2 separate regions of the Homo sapiens genome follow, and region 2 is linked to region 1. Evidence: fine-mapped expression QTL. Tissue or cell type: sun-exposed skin. Region 1 holds a variant in brackets; the other region holds the start of a gene. All regions are shown on one strand. Distances are between the middles of the regions.

Region 1 (8,122 bases):
GGTTGGGTGGGTGGTGACTAGAGGCATCCTTGGCGGTCGCAGTCTTCCTCCTGCCTCAAGGCCTCTGCCAGGGTTGGCTGCAGCAGTCCTCATGCAGGGGGCAGAGAGCTATATGGCCCATGGGCCCCTCCCATGCAAGCAGGCGGGCATGGGGCATTGGGATCCCTGCCCACACTCCAATCCTGGGGGGCTCTTGCTTCCTGGGAGGCCTGTTGTTATGCTGGATATCCCTGACTGTGGGATGGTACACTTGCATTCACCTCACACCTCACCCGCTGAGGCTTCTCTAGGTCCCAAGCATCTCCTCTGGAGCTCTCAGACAGGCCACAGGGTCCATTAAGTTCCTATCTGCACATGGTCACTCTCAGTTGAGACCTTCTGGTCCTGACTCAGGGAACTCCAGCCCTCAGCCTCACCCCAGCCAATCCATAGGCCACTCTCCTGGCCCATATTCCTTTGGGTGTGAGGCACAAAAGGAGACACAGCACCAAGGTCTAGGGAGGGCCAAGGAGGTGTGTTAAGGCTCTGTTCCTGCTTCCCCACAGCCCCAGCCCCATTGTACTGGGCACAGGGCCTGGCTGGGCAGAGATGTCATTGGTACATTTCCCATGGATAGTCTTCCACCTTCCAGCCCATTTCTCCTCCTTCTATGCCCCCTACTCAACTCTTCTCCTTGTGCTCCTGGTCCTTGTAGAATAGGATGGGATATCTCAGCTTCTCCTAACCAGGCAGAGCTCTATCAAGCCCTAGGCAGACATCAGCATTTGCGGGCAGCTGACCTCAGAGAAATGCAGGCCCTGGACCAGGGTCACATAGCTAGTTGGAGACAGACTGTCACCCCAGCTCAGGCCCTTGCCTACTCTCCTGGCAGAGCAGAACAGGCAGCCAGCCTCAGGAGAAATGTGAGGCTGCCAGAGATGTAAGATAAAAGTAGCAGAGAGAAGTTCCACTGGCTGGTCGCTGGGTCGGGGGGTCCATGCAGCCTGGGCCCACCTCCTCCAAGACACTCTATCCAGCTCCCACAGTCATTCTTCCTCCTGTCCCAGCTCCAGCTGGAGCCCTGCCATCAGCCAGCTGCAGCTATGGCAGCCACCCCCTCACCCTCTTGTAGCACTGATAAGCACGCTGGGAAGGGGGATTGTCTTCATTTCATAGATTGGAGGGCTGAGGCCAGGAAATGATTTGAGGACTGAAAGTAAATTAGCCGAGACTGGAAGTCAGGTTTCTAACATTTAATCTCCACTTAGGGAATTGGAGGTCAGAAATGAATAAAATACCATGCCCCAGTAGGCTCCAGTCTAGGGAAGTGGGCAGCAGGCAGAAACCAAGACACAGAAAGCAACGACACATAACAGATATGCTATGATACAAATGGTGCTGCAGGAGCTGCACAGTTCGGAGGCCATTTCTGGCCAGAGGATGGGATGCGTGAAATCCAGGAAGGCTTCCAGGAAGGAGTAGCTGGCACTGGGATGGGCAGGAACAGCAATGTCTCTACTGATGGTTTCATTGGAGAAAGCTGGCAAAGTTGAGAAGTTTGGAGACTAACCGTGACAAAATTTAAACATCAGGTATGTGAAGGCAAGGGGGACCAACTGTGACAAAATGTAAACGTCAAGTGTGTGAAGTCAAAGGGGAACCAGGAAAGTAAAAGAGTGACAATCAGCAGTGCTTTTGGCAAAAAGGCCTCTGGCAGCAGTGTAGAAGAGAAACGCAGAGATCACAGGTATAAGAATGACAGTAGGAGAGGGGAGGAGGGTACATATTTCAGAGGCATCACAGGGGGGTGTACTGATAGGACGGGGGCCTGCTTGTATGAAGGTGAAAGAGGAGGAGGGAGAGTGTCTCTGGGAGATGGGGTGAATGGTAGTGTTCTGAGCAGAGAGAGCAGGGAAATCAGGAGGAGGAGTGGTTCAGGGAAGAGGCAGGGGTTCAGATGCCAAGTTCTGCATTGGCCAAGCTGAGTCAGAGGTGCTGGGAGACTCCCATGTGGGTCTGGGGATAGAAGAAAGCTCTGAGTTCAGCAATGATCATGGAAACCAAGGGAGGGTTGACAGCACCCTGAGGTGGGGGAGACATGGGCACTGAGGAGGGATCTTGAATGATTCCTACATTAAAGACATCCTGACTGGGCACAGTGGCTCATGCCTGTAATCCCAGAACTTTGGGAGGCCGAGGAGGCCGGCCAAAATGGTGAAACGCCGTCTCTACTAAAAATACAGAAACTAGCCGGGTGTGGTGGTGCGCACCTATAATCCCAGCTACTCAGAAGCCTGAGGCAGGAGAATTACTTGAACCCGGGAGGCAGAGGTTGTAGTGAGCCAAGATCACACCACTGCACTGCAGCCTGGGCAACAGAGTGAGACTCTGTCTCAAAAAAAAAAAAAGGTATCATTTCTCTAGACCTGTGCTATCCAATAGGGCAGCCACCTGCCACACACGGCAATTAAGCACTTGGAATGTGGCTAGTCTGAACTGGGAAGAACTGCAAAAGTACAGTACATACCAGACTTTGAAGACAGGATGAAAAAGGGAAGGTAAAAACTATTACGTTAAAATTTTTAATAGTGATCACGTTGAAATGCCAATATTTTGGATATATTGGATTAAGTAAAGTATATTATAAAAATGAATTGTTTCATTTTACTTTTTAAAAATGTGTTTACCAGGAAACTAAATTAGCTGGGCAAGGTGGTAGGTGCCTGTAATCCCAGCTACTGGGGAGGCTGAGGCAGGAGAATTGCTTAAACCCAGGAGGCAGAGGTTGCAGTGAGCAGAGATCGCACCGCTGCACTGCAGCCTCGGCGACAGAGCAAGACTCTGTCTCAAAACAAACAAACAAAACCAAAAAACCCCACTACTCATGTAGCTTGCTTCATATTTATGTTGGATGACACTGTTCTAGAACCTGAATTCCATAGGATGTGGGATAAGTGTTGCTGAAAAAACTAAAGCAAGCTGGGAGAGTGGAGGCTGATGTTTGCAAGATGCCATGTTACTCGTGTCTGGGGGGAACCAGTCTCTGTACTCAGGACTTCTCAAGGCAGGCATCATCTCCCAAACCAAGTTGCCCACAGATACTCCCCCTTCCTCTGGACTTCCTGTGAGAGGAGGGTTCGGCAGAACCCACTCTGAGAGATGGTATTTTAAAGAGAATGATAAGCCTGTCAGATGACTAGGCGGGGAGAGAGCGAGGACAGGCAGAACAGAGGTAGGGGGTGCCACAGGACCAGAGGGAGGGGTGGCCAGTGGGGTCTTGGGGCTGCAGAGGGGTGAGAACAGGTGAGAGATGCAATAGAACTCCTCTGGCCAGGTTTGCAGCTGGCTTGGCCAAGCTCACTCTGTAGGATGCAGGCGGTAGCGGAAGCGCACATCGTGGCTGGGCTGCATGGTGCCAAAACCCCAGCGCTGCGGGTCAACATGGGGTAGTGGTGTGTCAGGGTCCACCAACTCTAAGTCAAAGTGTGTGACCATAAGCAGGATAAAGAGCTTCACCTCACTGAGTGCAAAGAACCTCCCAGGGCAGATGGAAACGCCCGAACCCCAGGGCATGGTGTAGTGGTGGATCTTCTTGCCTGTCTTGAAGAAGTCCACTTTCCGGCTGCCATTAGGGTTGAGGAAGCGATCGTACTTGAAGACGGTGGGCTCAGGGTGGATGTCAGGGTCCATGTGCACTGAGAGGTAGGGAAAGAGGGCCAGGATGTCTCCATGGCGGAACAGATACTCCTGCCCACTGGACATCTTCAGGGTATAGTCTTCATGAACCAACCTGAGGAGGGTGGGTGCAGCCCTCAGCCGCAGCGTCTCCTCCACCACGCTGTCTAGAACTGGGGTGTGTTGCAGGGCACCGAGTTTGAAGGCAAAGGACTGCTTGGTCTCCAGCCTGGCCTCACCCAGGACCTGGGTAGCTTCCTCCCTCACAGCCCGAATAGCTTCTGGGTGCTTCAGGAGGTACAAGAGGGCCCAGAAAGAGGTAGGCCCCGTGTTCCCCTGGGAGGCCCAGAGCATCATGAAGTTGAACTTGTCCTGCATAGCTGAGGGTAC[C/A]CCCTGCTCCCTCAGAAACTGAAGCATGTTGCCCAGCCAGTTGCTGATGCCCTCCTTCTCCTGGCTGTGGCTCACGGAGAGCATCTTGTGAAAGAGACGCTGGAGTCGGCCCACTTCTAGCCACTCCCGGGGCCACAGCAGGGAGTAGACAAACCTTGGGAAAAGAAGGTCAAACTTGCGGAACTCCATGAATAACTCTCCTGCCTGTAGCAGGTCCTGCTCCTTGTCCTTCGTGTAGCCGAACAAGCTCAGGTAGCCAGCTGTGAACAAGATGTAATAGCAGAAGCGAAAGAGGCTGTCCTCATGCCAGCAACTGGCATCCAGACTCCAGCCTTTGGACGTCAGCATTACAAAGGACAGGCTGTCCAGCATGGTCTCATTAAGATCCTTCAAGCCATCCCCCCTCAGATGCTTGGTGCTGGCTGAGTGTATCATCTCATGGTCCCCTTGCACTGAACGGTATCCAAATACCTTCAGCACCAGTTTTTTTGCATATTGCCCAAAGTCTAGTTTTCTCTGTGTGTCCTTGAGGATGGAGCCAAAGGAGAGGGGGTCCATGACGAAGGTGAAGTACTGGCCCCCTAGCTGCACTGTGAACACATCCCCATGCTTGGTCCTCATGCGCTTCAGAAATTCAAACATATTCTTCCGGAAAGCCATGGCATGGCCAAGCCAGGGCACGGTACCCTTGTCCAGAGGGGGCTCCCATGGCCTGCGTTGTCGGAGCATCCCTGGCAGGCACAGGTATCCAGCAATGACCACCAGCAGAGCTCCCAGCACTGGACCCCAGAGAACCATGGCTATGCTCCTGCGGATTAAGCTCTCGACACGCACACTGTTCCCTGGGTGCCAGAGAGCTTTGGGAGGCCTTGGAAAGTCCAGGATGTAAAGGTCTGAGCACCTGGACCTTGCCCTGTGGCCGCAAGTTATGGCAAATAACACTAGTGAGACAGTACTTGGAAGCAGCAAAATGTTCCCCTGGACTTAACACTTGGCTGACTGGTCACGTAGGGGAGGAGGAGGTAACCAGGAGAAAGCTCAGAGAGAAGCTTCCAGCTATGGTCACAGCTGCTCACCAGCTTCATGCTTTGCTCTGACCTTTTCAGACAGCTCTTGCACCTTCTCTCTAAGCCTGCCTTGAGCCCACTCCCACCCCCATAGCTGACAGACTATTTATACCCCCATTTACTCATGCTTTTATTTATTTGCCAGTTCAGTTGGTAGAAATGAATCAAGCACTTACAAAATCTCACTTCCACTCTTTCCTCATCTTTAGAAGACTCAACAAATGCCTCCATTCCTACTTGGCCCCCTTGGTCAAGTAAGTTAACCTCACTGTGGCTCCACTCCCTCATCTGTGAAGTAGGGATAATTACAGTGCCTTGTAGGTGCTGTTGTGAGGCAAAAAGAGATAACACCTGAAAAGCACTTAGAATAGTGCCTGGCTCATGCTAGTGCTCCATATATGTTAGTTAGTATCCTAAAGCCTTTTCTCTTACCTTTGCCTGCTCCCCTGGACCTCACAGCAGCCCGTGCTTATCTCCTCATTCTTTCCCTAGTCTGTCTTCCTCTCTGGTCTCAAAGATGCTTGCCAAGGGGGCATGACCTTGTTGAAGTCATGTCTGCTCCTACCTCCATGTGCACAGAGTACACAGTCAAAGGCAAGTGAAGAATGACTGTATGCCCTTCCACAACAGCTCTGACCCCTAACCCAAAAAAAGAGGCATTGATGCTGGGGCTTTAGATGCTGAGAAGGCTGAGATGGTGGAGGGGGTGTTGACTCCATCTTGGGGTATGAGTGTGAATGAACTCATCTGAGGAGGCCACAGAGCCTCCCAGATGATGACTCTTCAAGCAGAGGCTGAGCCCTCAGTCTCTGAGCCTCTCACCCGGAGCCCTCTCACCTGCCCAACTGCTTGCCTATACACTTCTCTGACAAGAAGGCAGAATCCTGGAATTGTAAAATGTCAGAGACAATAGAGACCTCACTCAATCACTTCATACTTCATTTCACAATGAGGATCTAGGTGCAGAACGCAGTGGGGACCCTCTTTGACAGCTGCCCTGGCTTGGGGCCTTGAGATAAGCTAATCATTGACTAAGGGCCTTCTGAGACATGTCAGCCCAGGTCCCTGCCAGCAGCTCAAGAGGGAGAAAACTGTACCATTGACGCCAAGGCATTAGTCAAGCAGCCTGGCCCATTGTTGCTATAGGTGAGGTTCAAACTCAATTCAATCAGTTCTGATAACCTCCAAATTACTTTTTAACTTCCTAACGACCTGAGAACAGGGACTTCGGCTCTTCAGACAAAAGAGGGTATGGAACTTCCATATCCCCTCTGGAGTGAGCTTCCTTTGCCTATGAGCTTCCCCTTGGCAGGGAGTTGGAACTGTCCACACTCTGCTTCCCAGAATCCCTCTTTAATTGTTCAGGACCACCACAGTACTTGGCATCATCAACTCTCCTCAACCTTAGAATTCGGTCTGAAACTGGGCCAAATCCAATGAACTGAACCGTGTCCCCTAGTTTTTAATGGATGAACCATTATTTCACATTCATTCTTACCTCATTCATTAACCCACACTCATCTATTCATTCCCTCCTTCCTTGGAGAAGCCCCATCTATCCATTCACTAGATATTTATTGGGCACTTACTGGCAGAAATGTTGCTACGATCTGGGATTATAATCATGAATGAGATAGACACAGTCCCTGCTCTCTTGCAGTTTATGGTCTAATGGAGGGAGAAAGATATTAAATCACTGCCCAAAGTAATTATACACATATTTCTCATTTAATGTGCTTTGCTTTATTGCACTTCACAGATACTATGTTTTTTACAAATTGAAGGTTTGTGGCAACCCTGCATTGAGGAAAACTATTGGCACCATTTTTCCAACAGTGTGTGCTAACTTTGTGTCTCTGTGTCACATTTTGTAATTCTCACAATATTTCAAATTTTTTCATTATTATCATTACAGCTGTTATGGCGATCTGTGATATGTTAGTACTGTAATTGTTTTGGGGCACCATGAACTGGGCCCATATATGATGCAAACTTAATTGGTAAATGTTGTGTGTATTCTGACTGTTCCACTGACCAGCTGTTCTCCCCTCTTTCTATCTCTCCTTGGGCTTTCCTGTTTCCCAAGACACAGCTATTTTGAAATTAGGCCAATTAATAACCCTACAATGGCATCTAAGTGTTCAAGTGTAAGGAAGAGCTGCGCTTTAAATCACTTTAAATTTCACTTTAAATCACAAGCCAGAAATGATTAAGCTTAGTGAGGAAGGCCAAGATAGGCTGCAATCTAGGTTTGTTGCACTACACAGTTATCCAAGTTGTAAATGCAAAAGAAAAAATTTCTTGAAGGAAATTAGAAGTGCTACTCTAGTGAATACATGAATAATAAGAAAAACAGCTTTATTGCTGATATGAAGAAAGTTTTAGTGGCCTGCATAGATCAAACCAGCTACAACATTCCCTTAGCCAAAGCCTAATCCAGAGCAATGTTTTAACTCTCTTCAATTCTATGAAGGCTGAAAGTGATGAGGAAGCAGTTGGAGAAAAGTTTGAAGGTAGCATAGGTTGGTTCATTAGGTTTAAGGAAAGAAGCCATCTCTATAACATAGAAGTGCAACGTGAAGCAGCAAGTGTTGATGAAGAAGTTGCAGCAAGTTATCTAAAAGATGTAGCTAAGATAATTGATGAAGATGGCTACACTAAGCAACAGATTTTTAATGTAGATGAAACGGCCTTATATTGGAAGAAGAGACCATCTAAGGACTTTCCTAGAGCAAAGTCAATGCCCTGCTTCAAAGCCTCTAAGGGTAGGATGACTCTCTTTTTAGGAGCTAAGGTAGCTGGTGACTTTCAGTTGAAGCCAAAGCTCACGACCATTCTGAAAATCCTAGGGCCCTTCAGAATTATGCTAAATCTACTCTGCCTGTACTCTATAAGTAGCAAGGCTAGGTGTGGTGGCTCGCGCCTGCAATCCCAGCAATTTTGAAGGCTAAGGCAAGTGGATTGCTTGAGCCCAGAGCTTGGAGCCCAGCCTGGGTAACATGGTGAAACCC
Region 2 (8,115 bases), 65 kb before region 1:
ATATGGCAAAGAAATATGTTTTGGGGTAAAATATTTTTATTTTCTTCCTTGTCTTATAATGTTATGCCAGAGTCAAGTTGGAAAGTAAGTCACGATATATAGAGTTAAATAAAACCCATTTGATGATAACTTATTATTTGTGGGGCATGACTCCCCAGACCCCTTAGATAGGAATTTGGGCATGATAAAAAAAATCAGAGCTTAGTCCTCAGATGCAAAGCATCTACAACTGCACCATGGAGAAATCTGTGATTAAGTTAGAGTTTCTTGATATAACCACAAAACAAGGCAGACTACCAAGTGCTCGTCATACAGATAGGAACTAAATGTCATGGGCTCAGGATTTTGAAAATCGTTCATCTCATAATTAAGATACATGTAAGAAACATTTCATGCTATGGATGATTAAGAACTTCATACTTCGCTGGGCACGGTGGCTCACGCCTGTAATCCAAGCACTTTGGGAGGCTGAGGCAGGCGGATCACCAGGTCAGGAGATCGAGACCATACTGGCTAACACAGTGAAACCCCGTCTCTACTAAAAATACAAAAAATTAGCCGGGTGTGGTGGCGTGCACCTGTAGTCCCAGCTACTGGAGAGACTGAGGCAGGAGAATGGCGTGAACCCGGGAATCGGAGCTTGTAGTGAGCCAAGATCGCACCACTGCACTCCAGCCTGGGTGACAGAGAGAGATTCTGTCAAAAAAAAAAAAAAAAAAAAAAGAGAGAACTTCATACTTTGATTATATGGTAGCTTTCAGCTCCTTGAAGGCACATATTTTGTCTGGATGATCCTGGTATCTCCTTGAATGCTGCCTGTGTGCTCAATAGAAATTCAATAATGGTAAATGAAGAAAGATGTAAATGCTGCAATAACTGGAGGGTTTAAAAGATAAGTAGGGATAGTCAGGAACTATAGGATAAACCCCACTGCCTTCAATATGAAGGTCAACCGGAAGTCATTAGTCTCTTGATTCTGTAAACACAAAGGCTAATGGCAGCAGTGACCAAAGCATATTCATTTCTGAAGGCAATGTATATGCCTCAAACTAACATCAGCTAACTTGTTAATTTCCAGAGAATAAGATATACTGCCCCATCAGCGGAGAGCAACTAGTTGGCAACATACTAGCCGTGACCTTGGATTTGATTTCTCAAAGTGTCACTTTTTTCACTTGTAAAATGGGGGGTAACATGAATGATGGTTAAAGAGGAAATATATGTAGCATGTTAGCCCCATGCTTGGCATGAAAAATGTTAGCTATTGCTTTAAAAATTCCTTGCTGTGTACTGTGCAAAAAGAGTCAGACCTTGCCCTTGAAGCTGTAAGTATAAGCACCTTTTAAACCAATTACTATTAGGGCTCCCAATCCAGACCCCAAGAGAGGGTTCTTGGATCTCCTGCAAGAAGTAATTCTAGACGAATCCATAGAGTACAGTGAAGGCAAGCTTATTAGAAAAGTAAAGGAATAAAAGAATGGCTACTCTATAGGCAGAATACCCCCAAGGGCTGCTGGTTGCCTATTTTTATGGTTATTTCTTGATTGTATGCTAAACAAAGGGTGGATTATTCATGCCTCCCCTTTTTAGACCATATAGGGTAACTTCCTGATGTTGCCATGGCATTTGTAAAATGTCATGGTGCTGGTGGGAGTGTAGCAGTGAGGATGACCAGAGGTCACTCTCGTCGCCATGTTGGTTTTGGTGGGTTTTAGCTGGCTTCTTTACTGCAACCTGTTTTATCAGCAAGGTCTTTATGACCTGTACCTTGTGCCAATCTCCCATGTCATCCTATGACTTAGAATGCCTAACCTCCTATCTCATCCTGTGACTTAGAATGCCTAACTGTCTGGGAATGTAGCCCAGTAGGTCTCAGCCTTATCTTACCTAGCCCCTATTCAAGATGGAGTTGCTCTGGTTCAATCATCTCTGATGATTGATTGGTATAAAGGTCAAATAGCTAGTAAGTAATAGAGGTAGAGGACTGTAAACTAGGAATTTTGATTCCGCTATATTTTAGGAATATAGTATCGCTCAACAGCAAGTAATTTTTAAGACATAGAAAGGAAATACATTTTTATATATAAGCTGGACTCTATTCATAATATTAAAAAATAAGGATTTAGACAAATTATAGGATGACAGATCCACATAGATAATTTAAGGAAGTTAGATATGCACTCTATGGCTACAACTGTGTGGAAGATGCACATTTGTCCCCCAAAATCTCTTTATTGAGGCTACTGGTATACACTACTTGGTAGAATTGTCATTAGTCTGACCCAGTTTGAATGACGGTTGAATTTAGGAGAAAAAAGTCCCATCTTTCGACAAAAGTGTACCAGCCCTGTCAGTTTAAGGGAGAAAACATAAACAGAGGCAGTGTAGGGGTGGAAAGGGGATGATCCCTTTCTTTCCCATCATAAGCGTTACAGCTAACACTCCTATAACAAAAGACAGGTTAACAAGAGAAAATTACTAGCCTGGACAACATGGCAAAACCCCGTCTCTACAGAAAATACAAAAATTTGCTGGGTGTGATGGTGTGCCTCTGTAGTCCCAGCTACTCAGGAGGCTGAGGTGAGCAGATCACTTGAGCCTGGGAGGTCAAGGCTGCAGTGAGCCAAGATTGTGCCACTGCACTCAGCCTAGGCCATAGAGTGAGACCCTGTCTCAAAAAAGAAAAGATAAAAACAAAACAAAAACAAGAGAAAAACATTATAAATGTACTGTATTTGATCAAGGTTTGTTTTGTTTGTTTGTTTTTGAGACAGAGTCTTGCTCTGTCGCCAGGCTGGAGTGGAGTAGCGTGATCTTGTCTCACTACAACCTCCGCCTTCCGGGTTCAAGCAATTCTCCTGCCTCAGCCTCTCAAGTACCTGGGACTACAGGTGTGTGCCACCACACCTGGCTAATTTGTTGTATTTTAGTAGAGATGGGGTTTCACCACGTTGGCCAGGATGGTCTTGATCTCCTGACCTCATGATCTGCCTTCCTCAGCCTCCTATTGATCAAAGTTTTACATGATGCAGGAGCCTTCAGAGTGAAGACCCAAAGATACAGGTGACTCTGTCTCATTATATGCTTAGGTTTGATGAAACAGGGACAGTCGTGTAGAAATGTGATTGGACAACAAAGGATATGAGCTAATGGTAATAGAAAACCTAGCAAGACCTGTCTGTTCAGATTCTTGAACTTTCTTTCGATTGTAGCATTTCTCCTTTCAGGATACAGTACGGGATCCTTTCTGGAATGGAGGTCTTATGAGCTGCTATTGAACACGGCAGGTGAGAGAATTTCTTTATGGCCAATTCTTAGACAAAAAGTAGGGGAAGCGGTTGGGCACAGTGGCTCACGCCTGTAATCCTAGCACTTTGGGAGGCCAAGGCGGGTGGATCACGAGCTCAGGAGTTTGAGACCAGCCTGACCAACATGGTGATACCCCATCTCTACTAAAAATACAAAAATTAGCCAGGCGTGGTGGCGTGCACCTGTAATCTCAGCTACTCAGGAGGCTAAGGCAGGAGAATTGTGTGAACCTGGGAGGCAGAGGTTGCAGTGACCCGAGATCGCGCCACTGTACTCCAGCCTGGGCAACAAAGCTAGACTCCGTCTCAAAAAAAAAAAAAAAGTTGGGGAAGCTTAGAGGTTCTGGTTTCTGTAATCAGCCTTGGGGAAGAGGAATTCTATTTTCTATGACTTGCTTCAGGAGAGAATGAGGGTATGACAGATAGACAGGAGGGTAAGACAGGTTGGTTAGAAACTTTGCTTCTGAGGCTGCTTCTGAGGCCTTCACTTTGGGGTATCATTTTCTGAGCCCCAACAGCAGGAAAGAATAAATAATAGGAAATTAGAAAACAGTATTGACATAGATATTTCCTGAATTCTAAAGTGATTCATTGTTTAAAAAATAACATTTTATTGGAATTAATTGCAGAATATCTTTCAGTCTGTTGGTAATGCGATTAAGTTGCAGAATATCTTTCAATCTGTTGGTAATGTGATTGGAATGATGAGTTAGGAGTCAACTAACCATTTCAAACAAATTAACTTTTTGTTGAAATTGTTTAAAAAGACTGGGTGTATTGATAAACTGATGTGGGATATGATAAGATTTCTCTTCAAATAATCTGATCAATCTTTTATTCTTTAATTCATAGTACCCCCCCCCAATTTTTCTCCTTTTTCGCCTTTTTTCCTCTTTGCCTTTGTTAAATGCCCAGGCACGCCACAATACCACGTTTTATCAATACCAACTTACATTCCTTTCCTTATTAAAAAAAAGACTAACTTTCTAGCTCATTACAAACACCCTTTCCCCTTTCCCTCCACTTTTTCTTTTACATGCTCACCCTATCTAAAAAAAATCGAATGTTTAGCCAACCAAAATTAGTTTAAATTGTACGACCCGACCACTACCAATAAAAAAAGAATACAAAGGCAAGACTTGCGTCAAAAATAAAGGCCCTCGTGCCCCTTTGTTCAAGTGCGCTCTCATGGCAACTGGCCGAAGAGACACCCCTCTGCGCAAAAGTAAAATTGCTTCATTAAAAATCCTTTGTTCGAGTGTTCAATTTCCTTAAAATTGTAAGGGTGATTCCTAACACCGACTTCATTTCCTCATTCCTTTTTTGAGATAGAGTCTCGCTCTGTTGCCCAGGCTGGAATGCAGTGGTGCAACCTTGGCTCACTGCAGCCTCCACTTCCCAGGCTCAAGCGATTCTCATGTGAGTAGCCGGGATTACAGGCATCTGCCACCACACCCGGCTAACTTTTGTATATTTAGTAGAGATGGGGTTTCACCATGTTGGCCAGGCTGGTCTTGAACTCCTGACCTGAAGTGATCTGCCCACCTCAGCCTCCCAAAGTGCCTGGATTACAGGTGTGAGCCACAGTGGCAGGCCCTCATTTCCTCATTGTTTTGAAACAAGGCACATACATTTTCTGTAGGGAAAAGAAAGATCAGACTGTTACTGTGTCTATGTAGAAAAGGAAGACATAAGAAACTCCATTTTGATCTGTACTAAGAAAAATTGTTTTGCCTTGAGATGCTGTTAATCTATAACTTTAGCCCCAACCCTGTGCTCACAGAAACATGTGCTGTATGGAATCAAGGTTTAAGGGATCTAGGGCTGTGCAGGGTGTGCCTTGTTAACAATATGTTTACAGGCTGTATGCTTGGTAAAAGTCATCGCCATTCTCCATTCTCGATTAACCAGGGGCATAACGAACTGCGGAAAGCCGCAGGGACCTCTGCCCAAGAAAGCCTGGGTATTGTCCAAGGTTTCCCCCAACTGACACAGCCTGAGATATGGCCTTGTGGGAAGGGAAAGACCCAGCCGTCCTCCCCAGCCTGTCACCCGTAAAGGGTCTGTGCTGAGGAGGATTAGTAAAAGAGGAAGGTCTCTTGCGGTTGAGATAAGAGGAAGGCCTCCATCTCCTGCATGTCCCTGGGAATGGAATGTCTCGGTGTAAAACCCGATCGTAAATTCCTCCTATTCTGAGGTAGGAGAAAACCGCCCTGTGGCTGGAGGCGAGATATGCTGGCAGCAATGCTGCTCTGTTACTCTTTGCTACACTGAGATGTTTGGGTGGAGAGAAGCAAAAATCTGGCCTACGTGCACATCCGGGCACAGTACCTTCCCTTAAACTTATTTGTGACACAGATTCCTTTGCTCACATGTTTTCCTGCTGACCTTCTCCCCATTATCACCCTGTTCTCCTGCCGCATTCCCCTAGCCGAGATAGTGAAAATAGTAATCAATAAATGCTGAAGGAACTCAGAGACCGGGGCCTGTGCAGGTCCTCCATATGCTGAGCGCCGGTCCCCTGGGACCACTGTTCTTTCTCTATACTTTGTCTCTGTGTCTTATTCCTTTTCTCAGTCTCTCGTTCCACCTGACGAGGAATACCCAGAGGTGTGGAGGGGCTGGCCCCCTTCAGTTTTCTTTCCCTCAGGGTTGTATAGTGCATAACGGCCCTTGTTTGGCTAGGAGTATTGTAATGGGACTGCATTTGTTGTGCCAAGCCCTTACTGAAACTAATGTGATGGATACAATTTATTTCCTAGATAGTCATACTTTCTAATATTGCTTTATGAGAGAGACAAAGTATAAATGTTTAGGAAAGGTTTAAAGCAATGCATTCTAAATTTTTTTCTGAAGATTGAGTCTCAGTGTTAGGTATTAAAAGGGGCCTTAAAGCTCATCTAGTCCATTTCCTTTCTTTTAATGAAAATACAGTTTTTGAGAATGTAAGTGGATGTTTTAGATGACACACTTACAGGCAGAATCTGAATAACTCTGCCTTCCTGAGAACTAGCCCAGTGCTCTGTTTGCTTGCTTACCTCTCCAGGTCATGGAATCAGACCTCTTAGTATTCCATGCAGCTTAAAACTGAAAACCTTTAATAAAAGTGGTTGGGCAATTTTCAGCCTTTTTTTTTTTTTTTTTTTTTTTTGAGATGGAGTCTGACTCTGTTGCTCAGGCTGGAGTGCACTGGCATAATCTCATCTGACTTCAACCTCCACCTCCCAGGCTCAAGTGATCCTCTTGCCTCAGCCTCCTGAGTAGCTGGGACTACAGGCATGTGCCACCACATCCGGCTAATTTTTTTGTATTTTTAGTAGAGACAGGGTTTCACCTTTTTGGCCAAGCTGGTCTCAAAGTCCTGACCTCAAGTGATCCACCTGCCTCAGCCTCCCAAAGTGCTGGGATTACAGGCATGAGCCACTATGCCCGGCCTTCAGCTTTCTTTTGGTTCTAATCATATATGTGGTAAAGTGATTGATTTAGACAGTTATGTTAATGTGAACAGTGCTGTTAATGTTATTGAATTTGATTAAAATAAAGCTCCATAATTTATTTTATTTTATTTAGCATTAGGGCCTTTGGGACAAAATATGAATAACGAAAGCAAGATAATTTGCAAATAAGAATTAGTCCAAGAGCTATAGTATGTTTTGGGTTTGTTTTTGGGTTTGATTTTGATCTGTTTTTAAATAAGTATGTTATAGTATCTAATATTAACTTAAAATCTTGGTTCAGTTTGCCCTACATAATCTATTCTAAAAATATATGTATTGGTCTGTTCTCGCAATGCTAGAAAGAACTACCTGAGACTGGGTAATTTATAAAGAAAAGAGGTTTAATTGACTCACAGTTCTGCAAGTTGTATAGGAAGCATGGCTAAGGAGGCCTCAGGAAACTTAACAATCATGGTGGAAGATGAAGGGGAAGCAAACCTGTCTTATATGGTGGGATCAGGAGAAAGCAAGTGAAGGAAGAAGTGCTACACACTTTTAAACAACCAGGTCTTGTGAGAACTACTATAAGAGAACAGCAAGGAGAAAGTCCACCCCCGTGATCTAATCACCTCCTACCAGGCCCCTCCTCCAACACTGAGAATGACAATTTGACTTGAGATTTGGGTGGGGACACAAACCATATCATACAAATTCAAGAGTTTGTAACTTGGTACAATGTGCCTTTATTATTTTCTGCATCATGTGCATACTTCACTGGTTCACAGCATAAAGACTGAAAACTGCCATATTTATTAGGAAGTTGTATTTTGTTTTTCAAGCTCTGTTGAGGAATAGATGGAATTTGTTCCATGGTGAGCTGTTTTTAAGTTTTCGCAGTATCATTAATGACCCCAGTCTCATTCTGGGAAACTTGAATTCTCCTTGCAAATTCTAAGAAGTTCACACTTTACCCAAACTTAATGTAATAACGAGAGACAACATCTGTTTATGCCTAGTTATTTGAGGTTTTGTTGCCTGTTTGTGGGAGAAATTCTCTCCTTCTGATTAGTATGCAGAAACTAAAATCTTGGTGAATGATGGTGATAAATATCTGAAACATAATCAGATGATTCAGTCAATTTTTGGTGAAGATTATTCTGCTACACTTTATACCATATCATGTTACAAGAAAATGACAATGACACACTTACATCTTTCATAATACAGACATTATAATTGGTAACAAACATGCAACATCTATTATTCCATTCTTCGTATTGGGCGTCATTTTGAAGTATAATTGATGCAGAAGACTTAACACATTATTTGGGTTTTCAGGTATTAAACCAACCCACCTGTAATTTATAGAA

What was found. PIP is the estimated chance that this variant, and not a neighbour inherited with it, causes the effect.
Region 2: ACKR2 starts here. The variant in region 1 is fine-mapped to the expression of ACKR2 in sun-exposed skin (GTEx, PIP 0.97).

What each region holds. Positions count from the first base shown.
Region 1 is chr3:42,870,975-42,879,096 of GRCh38, forward strand. It overlaps CYP8B1 (cytochrome P450 family 8 subfamily B member 1), which reads right to left and starts at 4,905. Exons shown (of 1, transcript NM_004391.3): 1 at 1,218-4,905. The coding sequence starts at 4,842. The coding sequence ends at 3,337. RefSeq lists a silencer at 4,168-4,344. The variant C/A (reference allele first, on the strand shown) is at 4,045.
Region 2 is chr3:42,806,246-42,814,360 of GRCh38, forward strand. ACKR2 (atypical chemokine receptor 2) reads left to right here and starts at 3,200. Exons shown (of 3, transcript NM_001296.5): 1 at 3,200-3,287. RefSeq lists an enhancer at 1-79.